Linked DNA regions of Homo sapiens. The protein of the gene in region 1 purifies or fractionates together with the protein of each later gene. This does not show direct contact. Each region holds a gene or a part of one and is shown on either strand. Other genes may lie near its edges.

Region 1 (5,175 bases):
AAACAAAAATTAGCCAGGCGTGGTGGCAGGCACCTGTAATCCCAGCTACTCAGGAAGCTGAGGCAGGAGAATTGCTTGAACTCAGGAGGCAGAGGTTGCACTGAGCCAAGATCATGCCATTGCACCCCAGCCTGGGCCACAGAGTGAGACTGTTGCCGGGTGGAGTGGCTCACACCTGTAATCCCAGCACCTTCGGAGGCCAAGGCAGGCAGATCACTTGAGGTCAGGAGTTCGAGACCAGTCTGACCCACATGGTAAAACCCCGTCTCTACTAAAAATACAAAAATTAGTCAGGCATGGTGATGCTGGCCTGTAATCATAGCTACTCGGGAGGCTTGAGGCAGGAGAATTGCTTGAACCCAGGAGGCGGAGGTTGCAGTAAGCCAAGATCGCACCACTGCACTCCAGGCTGGACGACAGTGAGACTCCGTTCCAAAAAAAAGAAAAAAGAAAAGAAAGCCAGCTGCCCAGCAGAATTGGGGAAAGCCGAGTCAGTTGAAGCAGACAATACCCCTATGGGAGGCAGAAGAATGCACCCCCCTACCAAGATATCCACATCCTAACCCCTCCAAACCTGTATGTTGCCTTAAGTGGCAAAGGGGACTTTGCACATGTGGCTATGTGAAGGATCCTGAGCTGGAGAGATTAGCCTGGATTATCCAGGTGGATCCCATATAATCACAGGGCTCCTTAGAAGGGAGAAGACGCTGTGACCATGGAGGCAGAGGTCGGATTGAGACAGCCAAGGATCACAGGCACCTCTCCAGCCGGGAAAAGCAAGGAACACACTACCCTGGCGCCTCCAGAAGGCACAGCCCCACCCACACCTTGATTCTGGCCCTGTAGGACCCATCTGAGACTTCTGGCCTCCAGGGCTGTAAGATAACACATTTGTGTTAAGCCACTAGGTTTGTGGTGATCTGTTAACAGCGGCATGAGGAAACTAACACAACCCCAAGGAGGTGAGCCTCTCCCCACAGCCCCGACTCAACCGGAAGGGAGAGGTGTGCAGAAGACGGCTTTGCAGGATGTTTGGGACAAATGGTCTCTGGGGGAAGACAGAAGCTAACAGAACTGATTCGACTGTGTGAACAGGGTGCTGGGAGGGCCCACAGGGGAGGGACTTCAGAGCTGGGCCTGCGCCTGCGGGGCCGTACGAGTTGGCCCGGAGCAAGGCGGCCCAGGACAGGCAGGGGCTGCACGCGGTAAGGCTCCCTCTTGCCAGTACCATCCCATGAGCAGCCTCAGAGCCCTCGACCAAGGGAAGTTCTGAGGGCTGAGAGGTTGCTCATTCGTCAGAGCGTGCTGCCCACCCTCCACCCCTGCATGGCAGAAACTGTGCAGGGGACGAGGCCAAGGAATCAGGAGACCCAGAGGCAGGGGTGGCCCGGAGACGGTGGGATGGAGCAGAAGCTCCCCGAAAGGGGTTGGCGGGGTGGATTCGCCCCGCTCCAGCCGGCGGAGGAAGGAAGTGGTTCCCCCGCCCACCCTTCCCTTAGGCTGGCCCGGGGCAGGATTTTTGTGATCCGCGATTCGCTCCCACGGGCGGGACCTTTGTAACTGCGGGAGGCCCAGGACAGGCCCACCCTGCGGGGCGGGAGGCAGCCGGGGTGAGGGAGGTAGGGACGAACGGGTGGACTGACCACAGGCAGGGACAAGGGGACTAAGACCCGGGCCGAGGCCTAGAAGCCCGCCGACCGTTGGGGGTCTGCGGGCTGTGGGGGCGGGGACGGGGGCGGGGGCGGCCCGGGCGGGGGCGGGGCCTGGTACGGTACGGGGCGGGACGGGCTGGGCCGGACCTGCTCTGAGGCTCCCAGTCGCAGCGGTGACCGCGGGCGGGTGGGGCGCCGGGTAAGTGCTCGGGCCGGGCGGGGGGCGTACCCCGTTTGGCGTGCAGCCCTTTCTACAAGACCCCCAGTGCCCGATCCTTCCGAGAAGAGGGGACCCCCCCCCGCATCTCCGCTGTCCAGGCCTCGCCGTGGAGCCCCAGCAGGACCCCAGCCCTCGGTTGCCCTCGGCTCTGGCGTGTCCCGGCGCGGGCGGGCAGTGCTTCCCCTCGGCAGGGACTGGAGTCCAGGGGAGGGGAACGCGGGAGACGCTGGCCCTAGTGACCCCCCGATCCCGGAGAGTTGGTGGTGCGCGCCGCCCTGGGCCAGGTGCCTTCAGTTCTTCACACTCCGCGCAGCAGCCACAGGTGACCATCGTCGTCTCCCTCTTAACAGGTGAAGAAACCAAGACGCAGAGAGGCCAAGCCCCTTGCCTTGGGTCACACAGCCAAAGGAGGCAGAGCCAGAACTCACAACCAGGTCTGTGTCCCCTAAGTCCTCGGATGCATCGTCCCTGCCCCGCTGCCCTCCCGGGAGATTGTAGGAGAGAAGCAGGGGCAGAGGCAGTGCTGGATGTCCCGGGAGAAGGCTGCAATGAGCAGGCCCAGCCATCCCTGAAGGAGGAGCCCCGGGGAAGCAAACTCTTCCCTAGAAACACTTTAAAAGCACCCACCTGTTGGAGACAGAGATGCTGAGGAACAAGAGTGATTGGGGCCAGGGTAAACGCCAAGACAGAGAGGGGAGAGCAGTTCCTCAGTGGAACTCCCTCCAACATTGCCCCCACCACTTTTACCAGTGCTGGGTGTGGGGGATCTTGCAGGCTCAGCTTCGTGACTTGGCCTGTCTCTGCCTCAGTTTCCGCATCTGTCCCATGAGGTTAAGCATGTACCTACCTCGCAGGATTGCTGAGAAGATGATATAAGATGCTTGGTGTACAGGCTTAGCCCCTGGCACCAGGTTACTACCAAAAGTTCATGGTTCCAGTGCTTCCTCCACCCTCCGTCCTGCCCCTCTGAGAGTACTTCTCTGTCCTGGGCACCTTTAACTTCAGGTTGTTCAGGGCTATCTGAGATCTGCAGGATTTCCGGACAGCCCCACCAGCAACTAGGAGCTGCTTGAGTAAGACCAAGGTGAGGGGGTGGCAACTTCTCTGGCTGACTCCCCAGAGGGAAAGGCTGATAAGGGCAGGGTTTTGAAAATCTCTGGGCTGAGGCTTGCACAAGGTCCAGAGCTGCTCTGTGGCCCCTGCCCTCCCCGACACAGGTTTAGCAAGAAGGAGAAAGCCAGAGTGTTCTTGTCCCCAGACTTGATCCTTTGCTAGTCATTGGGGCTTGGGCCCTGGGAGCTGTCATCCACCACCCCGCTCCTCGTCCCTTCCCCACAGTCTAGGCTAGCGACAAGTTCTAACCCAAAGCATATCCTGAATCCGGCCACCCCTCCACCCCCTACTTCCACCCTGAGACCAGGCCGCCAGCATCTCTTGCCGCCTCATCACGCTGGACCCCTCACTTCCATCCAAATCCCCAGCATCGCCTGCCAAGCCCTCTCCATGATCAGGCCCTGTGTGATTATTCTCAATTTTTCTCTCTGGCCACTGTCCTGTCCACTGCTGTCCCCAGCCGCCACCTCCTAAGTACTCCGCTCTCTCAGGGGCTGTGCACAGCACACGTGTTCTTCCTTTTCCCGGGAATGCTCTTCTCTGCAATCTGTGACATACTCCCTTGTAATTCAGGGCACACCATAAATGTCGAGTTGTCCCTGACCACCCCACTTAAGGAGACCCCGCCTGCTCCCTGGCCCCTTACTCTGGCTGGCTGGCTTCCCAGTGCTTAGCTGGGGGGGGGGGGTGTGGTCTGTCTTGTATATTTCCTTGCTTCCTTGTTTGTCTCCCCAGGTAACATGTCAGTCTACCAGGATCGTGATCTTGCCCTTTCCTCTTCACCTTGGATTTCCCAGAACCTGGGAAATCAGTGCCTGGCACCTAGGAATGGCTCAGATAGTTTTGTACAGTTGCAGGCAATGTGTCAGCCATCAGCCTATTTTTCTTCTCACTGCTTGACAGCATTTTTTCTCCCGTTTCTACATAGACTTCAGAATTATCCCTCCCAAGAGCCCACTGCCTTCCTCAGCTTTTCCCTAAAGTAGGGCTTGGGGGTTGAGGGCCACTTCCAGGTTTTAGCCATACTATTCAACTTAGCTATAAATATCATTGTCCATATTGTGCATGTTTTTGGCTATCAAATGGCTTCTTGGAGATACAGTTTCCTAACCAAGGTGTGCAAGTCAAGGGTGGGATCATTTTGGAAGCACTTACCTCTTGTGACCAGGTAGCTATTTAGAAAAATCATCCCCAGGAATGTGTGCACATTTCTCTGCAGCTCTGCAAGCATTGGTTTTTATCCTTTTTATTTGTTTTGGCTAGTTTAATGGAGAAGGGCATGGTAGTTTTAAAGTTTCTGTTGCTTGAATTGCTGAAGCTGAGTGTTCCTCTGCGTGTGTGCTAGTTCTAGCTCCTGTCTTGCAAAGGTAGGAAATCTCCAGGGCACCTTAATTTTTCCCTTCACCTCCTCTTGTGGTGATGGTTCCACTTGAGCCCCTCTCGTGAGAGCAGGTTGAGAATCCCAGGGGGCTGGTATAGGGACATGCAAAGCTGAACTCTGCTGGGTCCAGAAGTTGCTCTGCCAGTCAACCAGCGAGAAAGTCTAAGAGTCCCTTGCACCCTCAGCATGTAACTGTGGGGAGAGAAAGAACCTCTTTAAAGTTTTCTTGAAAGTTTATTTCAAAATAATTTTTTAGAATTAGGCCAGGCACGGTGGCTCATGCCTGTAATTCCAGCACTTTAGGAGGCTGAGGCAACGGATCACTTGAGGTCAGGAGTCTGAGACCAGCCTGGCTAACGTGGCAAAACCCCGTCTCTACTAAAAATACAAAAAAAAATTTTAGCTGGGCGTGGTGGTGGGCACTTATAATCCCAGCTACTCAGGAGGCTGAAGCAGGAGAATCGCTTGAACCTGGGAGACAGAGGTTGCAGTGAGCCGAGATCATACCACTGCATTCCAGCCTAGGCAACAGAACGAGACTCTGTCTCAGGGGAAAAAAAAAATTATAGAAGTTACATAGAGGGATCAGGTGCAATGGCTCATGCCTATTATACTAACACCATGGGAGGCTGAGGCAGGAGGATCACTTGAACTCAGGAGTTTGAGACCAGCCTGGATAACATAGTGAGACCCCCCTTTCTACAAAAATTAGCTGGACTTGGTAGTGTGTGCCTATAGTCCCAGCTACTCGGGAGGTTGAGGTGGGAGGATCGCTTGAGTCCAGGATCTTGAGGCTGCAGTGAGCTCTG
Region 2 (4,634 bases), on another chromosome or scaffold:
GGAGTGTCTATTGTATTAGATAGCACTTTGAGAACAATTTTAAATAATAGATATTGGATGTTCATTTGGTGTGTATATTCATTACTTCTTAACATTTTTATCAGGAATGGAAGTTGGATTTTGTCAAATGGCTTTTTGACATCTATCATAACCTTTCATAGGTACTTTTCATCTTTGACCTAACAGGATAGTGAATTACTTTAGTATATTTGCAGTTTGTGAACCAATCTTACGCTTGGTCATGGTGTAATATTTAAGTATATATTGGTTCCTTTGGTAGCATTTTTATTTAAAATCAATGATTGAGATTCATTTTATACTCACCTTTTTCTGTTATTTTTGCTAGGTTTTGGTATCAAGGTTATGCTGGTTCCTAAAAAGAACTGGGCAGAGTTCCTCTTCCTCCGCTCTGATGTAGTTTAAATAGCCTAAGAACTCTGCTCTTTGAAGATCTGAAAGAATTCACTCATGAAACCATGTGGGTCTGGGAGTTCATTGTTCTTAAGACAGCAACAATACTCAGCAAAATGGTTCAGAACAAACAAAAACTCCTTGGAGTAAATACAATTGAATGAAAGAGTCTGGGACACGGTAATGTCAAGAACTAAGAACAGCTGCTGTACTGATGCTGGTTATTTCCCCCCTACACACAACTTTTTTTTCATGGACAAGGAAAAATGCTGTAGGTAGGCTGAGGCTGTTAAGTAAAATGTCTTGCTATTCTTTCTCTTCTCTTCTTCAGTTATGTTACAGAAGCAAGGGTATTGCTTCTACATGGGCAAATTTGTCTATGCCCTGAAAGAAACCAAGAGTGAAACTCAACTGGGAAAGCATCAGTTTCACTTTATTGTCACTAGCTTCCCAATTTTGCCGGGAAATTTCTTAATTTAAAGGTAATAACCAAGCTGACATTTTACTGTAGCCAAATCCTACAGAGGGTTTCAAAATGAGTGGGTGAAAAAATATACAAGCTTAACATGCTTATACTTATTTAACATGAAGTGAAAATCATTAGCATAGTTCAGGTATGTGCATGGTATGTGCACGCACATGGGGCAGTGCTGTCATCTAACAGAAGCCCACCTTTTTACTTGACTAATGGTTTACTGTTAATACCTCGATAATAGTGTAATCTTTGATAGACTTTTATAAATGATTATTTCAAATGCTTTTTGATCACCTTCAAGAATATGACCTGAGACAGGTAATGTAATTTAGCAGTTTGCATCTATGAACTGTGGAGGATACCTACAGACACTGAAGCGTTACTAACAGTAGGATGCAGGCATTATGTGAATGCGTGGGTATTTTATTTCCATTTATGGGCTACTATAGCAAAAATAATTGGGGAGTTGCCCTATGATGAAAGAAGACTGCATGTTTTTTAAAACCATACCTTTGTCCAAAAGCAAATGGTAAATAAAAATAGACTGTTGACATAAAGCTTCGCTATTTCGATGCTATGCATTAGCTGATTGACTGTTACTGTTTATCCTTTTTGTTTTCTAACACCTTATAAGCATAAAATATTACTGTTTAATTGCAGTTCGTTTGTGTTCAGTTACGTAAAGCCTAGTTTTAGTTTCTATTTCCTGTAGGATTTATGCTGTGGCTGCCATTTCCCACCTGTTATCTCCTATGCTTGCTGCCATGGTTTTGAATCATAAATACAGGGAAAGAGGAGGCTATTATTTAGATATGTAACAAAAATCGCTTTATAGTTCGGAACCAAGATTATGATTATCTTCAGGAAGGGATAACAGAATATGAAATGAACTACCTTTTCAGTGAGTTGTTAATTAATTTTCAAAGTCTTTTGAACTAAGTGCAGTATTTGGTCACTGTTCAAATAAGTTGAGGGTAACTGGTACCAAGCCCTATGCAACTGAAAACAGGCTTTGGGACTTATGTAGTACATGTGTCACATTTTCCAATTCCTAATCTATAAAAGCTTTTTAAATTGTGGTAAAATTCACATAACATAAAATTTACCATCTTAACCTTTTTTTAAAGTATATGGTTCAATAATGTTAAGTGCATTCACATTGCTATGCAACCAAGAAAAACATTTTTAAAGGGACGTATTTTTCTTAAGGAAAAGAGTTTGGGAAGTAAATGATGGCAATTGTTTGTCTCATGGAAAATTTCCTGGACAGTAACTTTTTACCTTCAGAGATATATTCTCTATAAATGGTAATTATCAGTAGTAAGTTATGAGAGTAAACATTTTGAGTACTAGTGATCTATAATAGCTTTTACTTAACACCAATACTTTTTTTTTTTTTTTTTTTTTGCAAAAGGAAGGGTCTACTGAAAATAGGTTGCTAACATTGACAACAAAGTATTTTAAGTCATTGCAGTAAGGAATTACTGGAAATTGAGTAGACAAAGAAAATTAATATGAGTTCCATTTTGATGGTTACTTAGCAAGTTGAACTTATGAGAGTCTTTGAAATAGTTGCAGTATGAGAATTGTTCTATTGAACAGCGAAACAACCCAATCAGGTAATAGTTTTTCCAGAGAGTGACTTGCTATAAGGGACAGAAGTTAGAGACTTAGATTCTTTCAAAATAAAGGATTTTTTTTAATTGCTTGAAGAAGGATTTTTGGAATCAGCAAATCAACTGTTATTGTGAGAGATTTAAGTGGTTTTACTATTCACAACCATTTATTATGTGGCATTTACTGGAATGTGGTTTCATAACCTCAAGTATTTGGAATCCCAAAAGTAGAAATGCCTTTCCCTTGAGATTGTTGTTTCTCAACCTTTAAAAATCCATATTTCCTTTCTGATAAACATTAAAATCTCACAAATCCTAGAGGATTGTAATACATGTTCCTTCCCATACAGTCCTACTCCTCCTCTACACCTCACCATACTGACTACAGACTTTCTCTTCTAGTTCCCTCATCTGTGAATATTATGCAAAGTCCTTCTTTATATGATTTATGTAATAGATTTTTAATATTAACTATTTCAAAATTGTATATCCTTCCTCCCCCATCTTCAGATTCTAACATTGCCCCTAGTCAGAGGAGAGGATACCCCTTAAAGATTACTCAGTTCAGCACAGCCAACTGAGCAGTGCCATGTTTACGTTCACCTCAGAGGAGTAGAACATCACATGCCTGCTTTCCCTTTTGGTGTTATACTGTTTAGTTGTGCACTTAAACCCATAACATTTGATAAATAGTCTCAGAGAAAGAAGTATTACTGGAGAAAAAAAGGAAGTAAGGCAAAACTGAGACTCATGGGTGTGGTCTTTGACAGTGAAATCTTTTAGCTCTTGCAAGATCACATAGAAAATTTCACCAAGTTCTAACATCCAGCAAAATGGAGAACATGTACTGGGGACCTTTGGGTTTAACCAGTGAGACTGTCTTGTTTATCCTGTTGCATTTAGCCTTCCAGCTTATGGAAAAATACAAAATTCAAATTCTAACACTGCTGGATTTATGATATTTAAGGTTTCTATTATATCAGCTGCCTGGATGGAGCACAGAAACAGCGTAGTACAATATGCTATGGGTATATTCATGACCAAAGTTTACAATGTGGAAGGAGAATAGAAATGCAAGAGGTCAGTTGGGGAATTAGCTGCTTGTGTTATATAACTCCTTAAAAGTGGAAAATGATCACAAGTAAATGTGAGTAGTGACAGTTCTCTTCCATTTCCTTTCTTCAGGTAAGGAAAACACACTTAATATTTTTGAGTGTCTTTAAAGATCTTCCTAACCATCCAAAAGAGAAGATGTCTTATTTATGTGTATATGTCGTGTTGTTGACTGATTTTTTTGCTTTTTACTCCTGATGTGTTTTGTGGGTGAGAAGGCAAGCATGTAACTAAGATACAGAAAAGACCAAGATGTAGTGGGGCACAGTGGCTTGACGCCTATAATCTCAACTACTCAGAAGGCTGAGGTGGAAGGATTGCTTGAGGCGAGGAGTCCAGGCTGCAGTGGGCTATGATTGCACCGCCACACTTGCTGCACTCTACCCTTGGGGGACAGAGTGAAGCTCTGTCTCAAAAAAAAAACAAAAAACAAAACAAAAACACAGAATTTGTCTTTCATTCACTGATTCACCTCTTTATGTACTACAGTGGCAACTTTTCTGAAATAGAATATGAACTCCTCTTATTCATAGCCCAAGGGGTTGGGAAAGGCTGGTGGCTTTCTTTTCTAGGGCAAAGTGGAAGGAGTAGCAGTTATTCAAGGTGGTTTCCTTTCCCCATCCTGAAACTGCTTTAGATTTGAGTTGGTCTCTCACCACAAGTGTGAACTCTGGCAGAACATTTACCCAGAAACAGAATAGGCTCAGCAGTTGGGGAAACCCAGCAGAGGGGCCTTGCCTGCCTCCCAAATTACTCACACTTGTCTCAACCACCTACAAAAAAGTAGACCTTACTAAAGAATGACTAATCATCCTGGGGTCAAGATGGCGAAAATCCTACCTTTAAGCCTTTGATTCTCTTCAAACGTGGAATTCCAATGTATATATACATAACTGATCAAAGCTCAGATGTTCTGGTTGAACAGGCAGTTAGAGGTGGAACATGATTTGGCTCATACACTGTCAGCCTCAGTGCAGCTCCAGAGGCACCACTACTTACCCTTGATTACTACTTTCTTT
Region 3 (5,204 bases), on another chromosome or scaffold:
GATCAATAGCCCAGCCTCCAAGAATCAGTAACCATGTCTTCACTAACTCATAGTTAGTGACCATAATCACTTACCAATAGTCTCATCTCCCCTGGTCTGTGACCTTATCCTTACTGATTATTCCCATGGATTAATAGATTCATCCCACTGATCAATAGTCCTACCTTATGGATTAATACACCCATGTCTATGTCCCCACTGATCTTTCTTTTTTCTTTCTTTTTTTTCTTTTTTCTTTCTTTTTGAGATGGAGTCTCGCTCTGTTGCCCAGGCTGGAGTGCAGTGGCATAATCTCAGCTCACTGCAACCTCTGCCTCCCAGGTTCAAGCGATTCTCCTGCCTCAGCCTCCCGAGTAGCTGAGACTACAGGCACCTGCCACCACACCTGGCTAATTTTTGTATTTTTAGTAAGGATGGGGTTTCACCATATTTGTCAGGCTGGTCTTGAACTCCTGACCTCGTGATCTGCCAGCCTCGGCCTCCCAAAGTGCTGGGATTACAGGTGTGAGCCACTGCGCCCAGCCTGACCATTCTTAATGTATTAATAGACCAATGTCCCACCTCCATGGAACAATGGCCTCATCTCCAAAAATCAATTACTCAGTCCCCTAATATCATTGGCTTTACCTTCACTGACCAGTAGTATCCTCATGCACAAGTGGCCAATGGCCTCCCCTCCACAGGTTAATAGTTCCAACTCCGTATATCAATGAACCCCCCTCCCACATCTCCTCTGAACAGTCTGAGCAAGATAAGCTCCAGGCCCACTGACCATTAGCTCTGTTCCTAAGGATGAATGGTCCCAAATCCCCTAAGCAATATCCCATCCCCTCTGTTGAGTGATGTCACATCCATTGACAAGTGCCCTAATCTCTGACCAATAGCCCAAGAGTCAATGTTCCCACCTCTTAAAGAACCACAACCACACCCCAGTGCCCAGTAGCCAGGCATCACCCACCCATGGTCCCCATCCCTCCCCATCTTCTCAAGCCTCTGTCCAACTCTTGCTCCCAGAACTTCATTCTCATACCTCTAGCTCTGAAGTGTGCAGCTGGGTCTTACCCAGCAACTTTCCCACCACCAGAGAGTCTGGGTGACCAGAAGCCCTTCCCACTTTCTAGATTTGGCCGTCGCGGGATTGTGCTGCTGACCTTGGGGCTGGTGGGCCCCTGTGGAGTAGGAGGGGCTGCTGCAGGCTCCTCCACAGGCGTCATGGCCCTCCGATTCCTCTTGGGCTTTCTGCTTGCCGGTGTTGACCTGGGTGTCTACCTGATGCGTAAGTGGCACCCTCCCAGAATTCCCTCCCTTGGGTCTCATGCCTACCTGCCTGCATCGCCAGGCCATCCTCACTGCCCCCTAGGCCACATTTCAGCTGCCTAGAATCTCAGCTATCTTTCTGCCCAGGCCCCCTTGAAGAATCCAGGGCTCTTGCTTCTCTCTACACCTATCTCCCCCTCCCGACAATCTTTAAAGTCTTTGTCCTGGACTTACTGCTGCCAAGGAATAAGGTGCTATTCCCCTGATAGCAGTAAGTCCAGGGACAAGGATTGTCCCTAGCTGTGTGACCTTGGACAAGGGTTGATGTGAAGGTCAAATAAGAGGCCTGATGGGAAAGGGCCTATAAATTGGAAATGTTGAACACTCACCCAGGACTCTGGCCCTAGAGCCCTCCTAGGTTTGAGCAGGAGAGGAGAGAGGGCTGAACAGTCTCCCCAGTCCTTGCCACCCAGAGGTTAGCAAGGGAGGCAATGGCTGCAGCCTCCACTCTGGGTCTGACCTCTCTCTCTGTCCTCCTCCCTCCCTCTTTCTTCTTCTCTCTTATGCCTTCTTCCTCCCTGGCCTCCCTCTCCTCTCTCCACCCCTGCTGTATCTCCAGGCCTGGAGCTGTGCGACCCAACCCAGAGGCTTCGGGTGGCCCTGGCAGGGGAGTTGGTGGGGGTGGGAGGGCACTTCCTGTTCCTGGGCCTGGCCCTTGTCTCTAAGGATTGGCGATTCCTACAGCGAATGATCACCGCTCCCTGCATCCTCTTCCTGTTTTATGGGTCAGTATTACCCTTCACCTGTCGTCTGGCAATTCCCATCTCTGCCTCCAAACTAGCCCTAGCCCGGAGACCCCTCCTCTTCTCCAACTACCCCTGGTCCAGGCCTACCCCAGCCCCAGTCCCTCAGAGGTGCACATTTCCCACCCCTAGATCAGGAGAAGGGAGGCCTCACAGTATACCCCTTCCCCCCTGCCCCCAGCTGGCCTGGTTTGTTCCTGGAGTCCGCACGGTGGCTGATAGTGAAGCGGCAGATTGAGGAGGCTCAGTCTGTGCTGAGGATCCTGGCTGAGCGAAACCGGCCCCATGGGCAGATGCTGGGGGAGGAGGCCCAGGAGGCCCTGCAGGGTAAGAGACAGGGATCCCTGTGAGTGTTGCCTCACTTGCACACATGATGGTGCCCTCTGCATGGCTGTAGCTGTGCCACCTTCTCCCAGGGTCCCCACCACCCATGTGGGAGGATCCTGGGATCTCAGGGTTTTCTTCTGACAGCTCCTCTCTCTCTCCCAAAGACCTGGAGAATACCTGCCCTCTCCCTGCAACATCCTCCTTTTCCTTTGCTTCCCTCCTCAACTACCGCAACATCTGGAAAAATCTGCTTATCCTGGGCTTCACCAAGTGAGCCTGGGTGTCTGGGCTGAGGGCCAGGCCAGTAGCTGGAATGGGGGCTGGCTGGGTGGGAAGGCCCGGGGACCCCTGCGGAGGACCATCAGCACTGTAGAAGGCTGCGGGAGGGGATTCAGGCTCTGTTCGTTGCTTCCCCACCCCTTCTCACAGCTTCATTGCCCATGCCATTCGCCACTGCTACCAGCCTGTGGGAGGAGGAGGGAGCCCATCGGACTTCTACCTGTGCTCTCTGCTGGCCAGCGGCACCGCAGCCCTGGCCTGTGTCTTCCTGGGGGTCACCGTGGACCGATTTGGCCGCCGGGGCATCCTTCTTCTCTCCATGACCCTTACCGGCATTGCTTCCCTGGTCCTGCTGGGCCTGTGGGATTGTGAGCATCCTATCTTCCCCACAGTGTGGGCTCAACAAGGGAACCCCAACAGAGGTGCTTCAGACAGGCACAGCCATTTCTTCTGGCACAGGCCTCCCAAGACAAGCCCCAGACCCTGCCCAGCTCTTCCACGAGCCTCCACCTGGCCCCACAGCCCCATCTGCTCTCCCAGTCAATTACTGAATGCCCAGAGCCTGCCCAGCTAGAGCCATGGGAACAGAGAGCCAAGGGGATGACACCCGGGACTAGGCCAGCCTTGACCTCCCCACCTGCATTCATATCATCCCTCTTGCTTCTGCAGATCTGAACGAGGCTGCCATCACCACTTTCTCTGTCCTTGGGCTCTTCTCCTCCCAAGCTGCCGCCATCCTCAGCACCCTCCTTGCTGCTGAGGTCATCCCCACCACTGTCCGGTGAGAGCAGGGGTGCCCCCAGGGGCAGAGCCGGGCCCCCTCGCCTCCCGCTCCCCCACCCCACCCCTGAGGACAGGGCCTGCGGGCTGGAGGAGGGGGGCTGCGGGAGAAGGGCCCAGCAAGGCTACAGCTGTGGGCTGAGCTCCTCCTCTGTCTCCCCCCAGGGGCCGTGGCCTGGGCCTGATCATGGCTCTAGGGGCGCTTGGAGGACTGAGCGGCCCGGCCCAGCGCCTCCACATGGGCCATGGAGCCTTCCTGCAGCACGTGGTGCTGGCGGCCTGCGCCCTCCTCTGCATTCTCAGCATTATGCTGCTGCCGGAGACCAAGCGCAAGCTCCTGCCCGAGGTGCTCCGGGACGGGGAGCTGTGTCGCCGGCCTTCCCTGCTGCGGCAGCCACCCCCTACCCGCTGTGACCACGTCCCGCTGCTTGCCACCCCCAACCCTGCCCTCTGAGCGGCCTCTGAGTACCCTGGCGGGAGGCTGGCCCACACAGAAAGGTGGCAAGAAGATCGGGAAGACTGAGTAGGGAAGGCAGGGCTGCCCAGAAGTCTCAGAGGCACCTCACGCCAGCCATCGCGGAGAGCTCAGAGGGCCGTCCCCACCCTGCCTCCTCCCTGCTGCTTTGCATTCACTTCCTTGGCCAGAGTCAGGGGACAGGGAGAGAGCTCCACACTGTAACCACTGGGTCTGGGCTCCATCCTGCGCCCAAAGACATCCACCCAGACCTCATTATTTCTTGCTCTATCATTCTGTTTCAATAAAGACATTTGGAATAAACGAGCATATCATAGCCTGGACTTCCCTCCCTTCTGTTTGTCCTTCTATCTCTTGGGGGAAGGTTTTTCTCAGTGGAATGCACACCGATAACAAGCTCCCCTCTCCCTCCTTGTGCCCTGCCCCCAGTGGTGACTTACAGACAACTGTCACCACTTACTGACTGCTTGCACTGCTGCCAGAACTGGCCTAAGCACTTGACACACTTCGTATCATTTAATTTTTACAGCATTGCAAGGTAGGTGTTTGGATCAATTAGGGGTTGTTGTTGTTGTTGTTGTTGTTGTTTGTTGTTGTAAGCAATAAAAACTGGCTCTAATGAACTTAAGCAAAAAGGGAATTATTCGATTTGGTGGGGCAGGTTGTGGTGGGAGCTCACAGAATGAAGGAGAAGCAGAACTCGTCGTAAAATAACTAGTCAGGAGCGGAGAAGGCTCCTTGTCTGAGGAGCAAAAACCAGCAACATTTTTGTCAGGGCTTCTTCTAGATGAATGAGCTCCAGTGCAATTTAATCTTTGGGTTATCCCACTGAAGATTAATTTCCAGAGAGCATGTCACTGGCTAGCTAGAGTAACATGCCTCCCACACCCCTATTTCTCCCAACTGGGAATAGGTAAAGCAAAATTTGGGCACTGTTAGCAGAAGCGGGACTGGGTGTCACTCAGAAAAAAACAATGGAAGCTCAGTACAGCATTCTTATTCTCTTAAACAAGATGAGAAAACTTATGGTCAGAGAGACTCAGTAACTGGCCCAAGGTTACAAAGCTAATGAGTGGCAAAGCTGAGACATGATTAGATCCCAGAGAGCTCTTCATGGATGCATACTGTAGTCACCTTCCCAACTCTTCTAACTTTTGGGCACATTCCTTGGAAGGCAAGAGTGGGTTCTCTTGGCTCTCTGGAAGGTGGCAGCAGAAAACTGAGACTTCTACCTCAGTGCCAGGGCCTCCCTCTTAAACCACATCTGGTTTGGCTTTACCACT
Region 4 (4,634 bases), on another chromosome or scaffold:
TTTTTATATGACTTTTTGTACTAAAGTATTGTAGACTATATTGATCTATCCAGGAATTTTATTTTAAATGAGACGAAATTAAAGAGTAAGGAATCTTAAATTGTTATGGTCACTCCATGGATTTGTACTATAAGGATCTTAGAGATAGGGAAAGAAGAAAGTTCTGAATTCAAAATTTATTCAGTCTTCTAATTATTCATAACTTAAAATTTTGCTGATTATGATTATATTGGTCTATTACAACTGTGTAATGTGCTGTTAATTCTAAGAATGTAAAAATAAATTTTAATTTTATCTTCTAGCTTGCAAATGTCCTTGAGATTGACTTATCCCTGGTTAAGGTATGTTATTTTTATACTCATTTACTGGTGATGTGATAACTGAGTGGATTTTACTAGTAGATTTTTATCTTGATAAGCTACTGAGAAACGAAGACATTGAGATTGTTGTTAGCTGTCTGAGAGAACGTGCACAGTAAAGGGGCACTTGCAAAGACAGGAAAGAGCAGGAAAAGGGGCCCTAAATTGGGATTCAAACACATGGACTGAAAAGAGAGCACTCATGCAAGAAGCAGCCCAAGCAGTATCTTGTAGTGAGGTCCGTTAAAGCAACAACTCCTGCTTCATTAGGGGTAGATGTAGGGAGGGCAAGGCCAGAGAGTTGGAAACATTCCCTCCTATACATTTATGAAGACTTCAAGGGAGGAGCAGGTCTACTGAAAATAGTTTCTGGTTACGGGATGAAAATGTTTGAGAATCACTATTAGTCTATTACACTATTTTTTCTCTACAAATATTGTGATGTCTAGTTTATTTTAAATGGTAATTAGTTTCCTTTATATTCCTTTCAGAATGCTGTTTCAATGTATTGCCGATTGGGCTTTGCCCATAAGAAGGGACAAGTAATTAATTTGGATCAACTTCATTCATCATGGAAGAATGTTCCATCCGTAAACAGATTAAAGTAACTTAAATTTATTCAGTATGAGCTATTAGAGTTTCCTTTTGAAAAGACATTTAATTTTACATACATAAATTTATTTATTTATTTATTTATTGAGACAAAGTCTCTCTCTGTCATCCAGGCTGGAGTGCGGTGGCGCGATCTCGGCTCACTGCAACCTCCACCTCCCCGTTTCAAGCGATTTTCATGCCTCAGCCTCCTGAGTAGTGGGGACTATAGGTGTGCACCACCATGCCCAGCTAATTTTTTGTGTTTCTGTTAGAGGTGGGGTTTCACCATGTTAGCCAGGCTGGTGTCGAACTCCTGGCCCCAACTGATCCACCCACCTTGGCCTTCCAAAGTGTTGGGATTGCAGGTGTGAGCCACTGCACCTGGCCCAGAAATTTTATTTATTCAACCTGTCAGTTGAGGTGAGCCCTTTATATTAGTGATTTTTAATCTTGTGTGTGTGTTACAGATCTTTTTTGGAATATAATGAAAACTAAGAAGGCTTTTCCCAGAAAAAAAGCAAATAAATATTTTACATAAAATCTTGAAGGGTTCTTGAATTTTCTGAAGCCTATCCGTGGATCTTAGTTAAGAACCCTTGTTGTATGTAGGCAGAGCATTTTTGGGCTGCGACTTAATTTTGGGCTTGAATATAAGACTGAATTTTGATGGATTGTTCATAATTTAAGTCTTAACTTCAGTAGATATTTTAATGTAAGGTCATTTATATGATTTTTAAAAAGCAAATGCATTCTTCATTAATAGGAGTACCTTAGATCCACAGAAGATGCTCTTGTCATGGGATGGAGGGGAAAGTAGGAGTCCTGTACAAGAAGCTTCATCGGCAACTGACACTGATACAAATAGTCAAGAAGATCCAGGTTAGCAGTAACTCAGTTTAACATAGAGTCTGTCTGTAGGTACGGCACATGTCCAAACATACACTCTTACAGTTACCTTCTAATTTTAGTTTAGATTTTATTCAATACGCAGTCTTTGAGTGTTTTACTATATTTTGGGCACTGTGCTAAGTCCTAGGTATATAAAACTGACAAGAATATGGTACCTTTCTTCTAAGAATTAAGTCTAAGGAGAGAGAAGGGAATGTGACCAAACAAATTACAACAACACGGGCACCAATTATAATGCTTGTAGGGTGCAAAGAGGAAGAGACCCTTAATTGGCTAGAGAGGTTTGGGAAGCCTTCACAGAGAAGATGTTATTTGAGCTAAGAATGAAGAAGAGCCTGCCAGCTGGTCAGGGAAGGAAAGCCATTTCAGCCCGAGAGAATAGTGAGGCTAAGCCCAAAGGGAAACACAGCATAGTGGACAAGGCCTAGGGTTAAATGCTTTTTAATATTCTTTGCGCTTCAAAATAGGTATGGCTGGAACTTCTTATGGCTATAATAGTGCCTTTTTAAAATTATGTACTTTCTGGTTATCAAATAAAGCTGAAATGAAATACTTTCACTCCAAATGGTAAGCAAAGAATAATTTCCATTTACTTGATTTTAAATTATGGTGTTTTTCAGCTGACACAGCCAGTGTAAGCAGCCTGAGTCTGTCTACAGGACACACGAAGCGCATCGCATTCCTGTTTGACTCCACTCTTACTGCCTTCTTAATGATGGGAAATCTTTCACCAGTAAGCCCAATTCTTGTTTAAATATGAAGGTGTTTAAAATAAATACTAGATATAAAATAATTTAATGCTTTTATATCTTTTTTAAAGTACTACATTTATTCCCGAAGCACAACTGACTTAGAGGAGTATAATAACTTTCAGGGAAGGTCCTTTTGTAATTGGAAGAATTAGCCCCTCACCCCCCAATCCTTAAGTTTAAATATATTTGAAAGGATAATATAAATATTTGATAGTATGCTTAGCATAAAAAGGGAGAAGTAGAACTTTAATATTTTGTTTCTTTTTTTCAGAACTTGAAAAGTCATGCAGTCACAATGTTTGAAGTAGGCAAACTCTCAGATGAGTCTCTGGACAGCTTTCTTATAGAACTAGAAAAGGTAAATGTAGATTGCATGTAAGGGGATGTTAGGGCATTTGGAATCTGTCCTTGCTTGACAGAATGCCAATTATACAGTCTGTTGATTTGGATGGGCTTTCAGTGTATTCTTGCTCGTTCCTACCTCATTCCCCAAATTAGTACTCTTACAGTCATTTAGACTTAAACATATTGAGTGGGTGAATTGATTTTGTGATTTTTAAAGTGATATGTCTACCTCATCTAATTCTTAACATAATTTGAGATAATGAAGAAATGGGGTATAGAAATTTTAGTCTGTAATGTTTTAAGTTGAATTTTTGCTAAAATAGCCTTTCAATTTTTTTTCTGGTATGACTCTCTAAGATCACCTCTTAAGCAGTTTGATTTGAAGTTTTTGTTCCATTTACCTTGAATCTGGAACAATATCCCTGGGTATCATATTTATGTCCGCTCTCACTATCCCTTTTAGCATCTTGAAGACTTCAGCCATATTTGCTCTTAACCACCTTTTTCCCCGTGAGTACAGCCCTAGTTTTCCTTAGCTCTAAATAAATCTGATTGCCCTTTATTGGTGTTTTTCATTCTTCGGATATTTTATTCTGGCCTCTTTGTATTCAAATAGTTTGTGTGCCTAATCTGTTCCTTGACTAATACTTTTCGTGCCTTTTGTGCTTTATGATGAACTTTGTATTTTCAATGCACTGTTTAGAGAATTTGTGGTGATTCTGCAACTCCTTTATATCTTAAAAAAAAAAGACTGTAACATTTTTCACTGCTCCTACTCCATAGGATTTTTACTTTTATTAGTGCAGAAATATGTGTGAGATAATCCTTTGCTATTAATTGGTCTCTTTTACTTTTACCTTTATACTGCCATTTATTTCTTCATGCTTCTTTATTTGTTAACCCCATTTCTTATTGTATATTATCTTCTACTAATAAATTTCTTACTATGTTACTGCACATTTCAAGTTCTGGTTTTCTGATTTTTATCTTTTTTTCACCTCAGCTAGTCTTTTATCAAATGTAGCAAATTGCAAGTTGACTTCTGCTCTTTTACTCATAAATCTATGTTCTTTTTCATCACAAAGTCATTCTTGGGAAAGCCTTTCAGTCTGAGGCTTAGTTTTTAAAGTGGATTCTTAGCTATTTTTTAAGTAGTTTGATCTTAAGATTGATTTCTTAAATGTATGCAAATCTGATTTAGTTATTTTCCCGTTGGTAGACCTATCATTCCATTTTCTGTGTTGTTTCTGGGATATATGTCTCTACTTATTAAAAGGTGACTTATTCAGACTTATTCAGAAGAGCATACATTAAACTATAAGGCCAGTGAAGGCAGGGGTTTTGTCCATTACTCTATCCTTATCTCCTAGGGAGGTCATAGTCCATAGGAGGCACTAAGTAAATCTTTGTTGAGTGAATTTAAGCTGTGTGTTCAGCAATGGTGAACAGCTATGTTGAATCACAGACTCCAGTGTCTCTTGTAACTGGTAATACAGAATTGTGAACAAAGTTATGAGAATTATAGGTAAAACTGGTGACCTTGGAGTACTTTCCTAGATGGAGCAGAATACGGGTTTTAGAGTTGTTTAAGCACTCTATTTGAATCATTTGGAACATGTAACATATAATGCTATAACTTAGCATTATTCAATTGCTAAAATTGTTAGTCTTAGTT

Evidence for each region. The genes of interacting proteins can lie anywhere in the genome.
Region 2: the proteins of HVCN1 (region 1) and TANK purify together in Homo sapiens (affinity purification with mass spectrometry; one large-scale study listed by BioGRID and IntAct). This does not show direct contact.
Region 3: the proteins of HVCN1 (region 1) and SLC22A17 fractionate together in Homo sapiens (co-fractionation; one large-scale study listed by BioGRID). This does not show direct contact.
Region 4: the proteins of HVCN1 (region 1) and FAM91A1 purify together in Homo sapiens (affinity purification with mass spectrometry; one large-scale study listed by BioGRID and IntAct). This does not show direct contact.

Annotation. Positions count from the first base shown.
Region 1 is NC_000012.12:110,685,756-110,690,930, reverse strand, and holds the start of HVCN1 (voltage-gated hydrogen channel 1), read left to right. Parts: upstream 1-1,815; 5' UTR 1,816-1,851; exon of another isoform or gene 1,852-2,135; intron 2,136-2,222; 5' UTR 2,223-2,306; intron 2,307-5,175.
Region 2 is NC_000002.12:161,162,768-161,167,401, forward strand, and holds part of TANK (TRAF family member-associated NF-kappa-B activator), read left to right. Parts: exon of another isoform or gene 1-594; coding exon of another isoform or gene 595-686; intron 687-4,634.
Region 3 is NC_000014.9:23,345,344-23,350,547, reverse strand, and holds the end of SLC22A17 (solute carrier family 22 member 17), read left to right. Parts: intron 1-1,121; coding exon 1,122-1,276; intron 1,277-1,876; coding exon 1,877-2,042; intron 2,043-2,241; coding exon 2,242-2,387; intron 2,388-2,551; coding exon 2,552-2,657; intron 2,658-2,816; coding exon 2,817-3,034; coding exon of another isoform or gene 3,035-3,088; intron 3,089-3,335; coding exon 3,336-3,447; intron 3,448-3,611; coding exon 3,612-3,900; 3' UTR 3,901-4,230; downstream 4,231-5,204. UniProt on the Homo sapiens protein: Cell surface receptor for LCN2 (24p3) that plays a key role in iron homeostasis and transport.
Region 4 is NC_000008.11:123,784,779-123,789,412, forward strand, and holds part of FAM91A1 (protein FAM91A1), read left to right. Parts: intron 1-302; coding exon 303-341; intron 342-850; coding exon 851-963; intron 964-1,716; coding exon 1,717-1,832; intron 1,833-2,482; coding exon 2,483-2,595; intron 2,596-2,885; coding exon 2,886-2,972; intron 2,973-3,422; coding exon of another isoform or gene 3,423-3,455; exon of another isoform or gene 3,456-3,469; intron 3,470-4,634. UniProt on the Homo sapiens protein: As component of the WDR11 complex acts together with TBC1D23 to facilitate the golgin-mediated capture of vesicles generated using AP-1.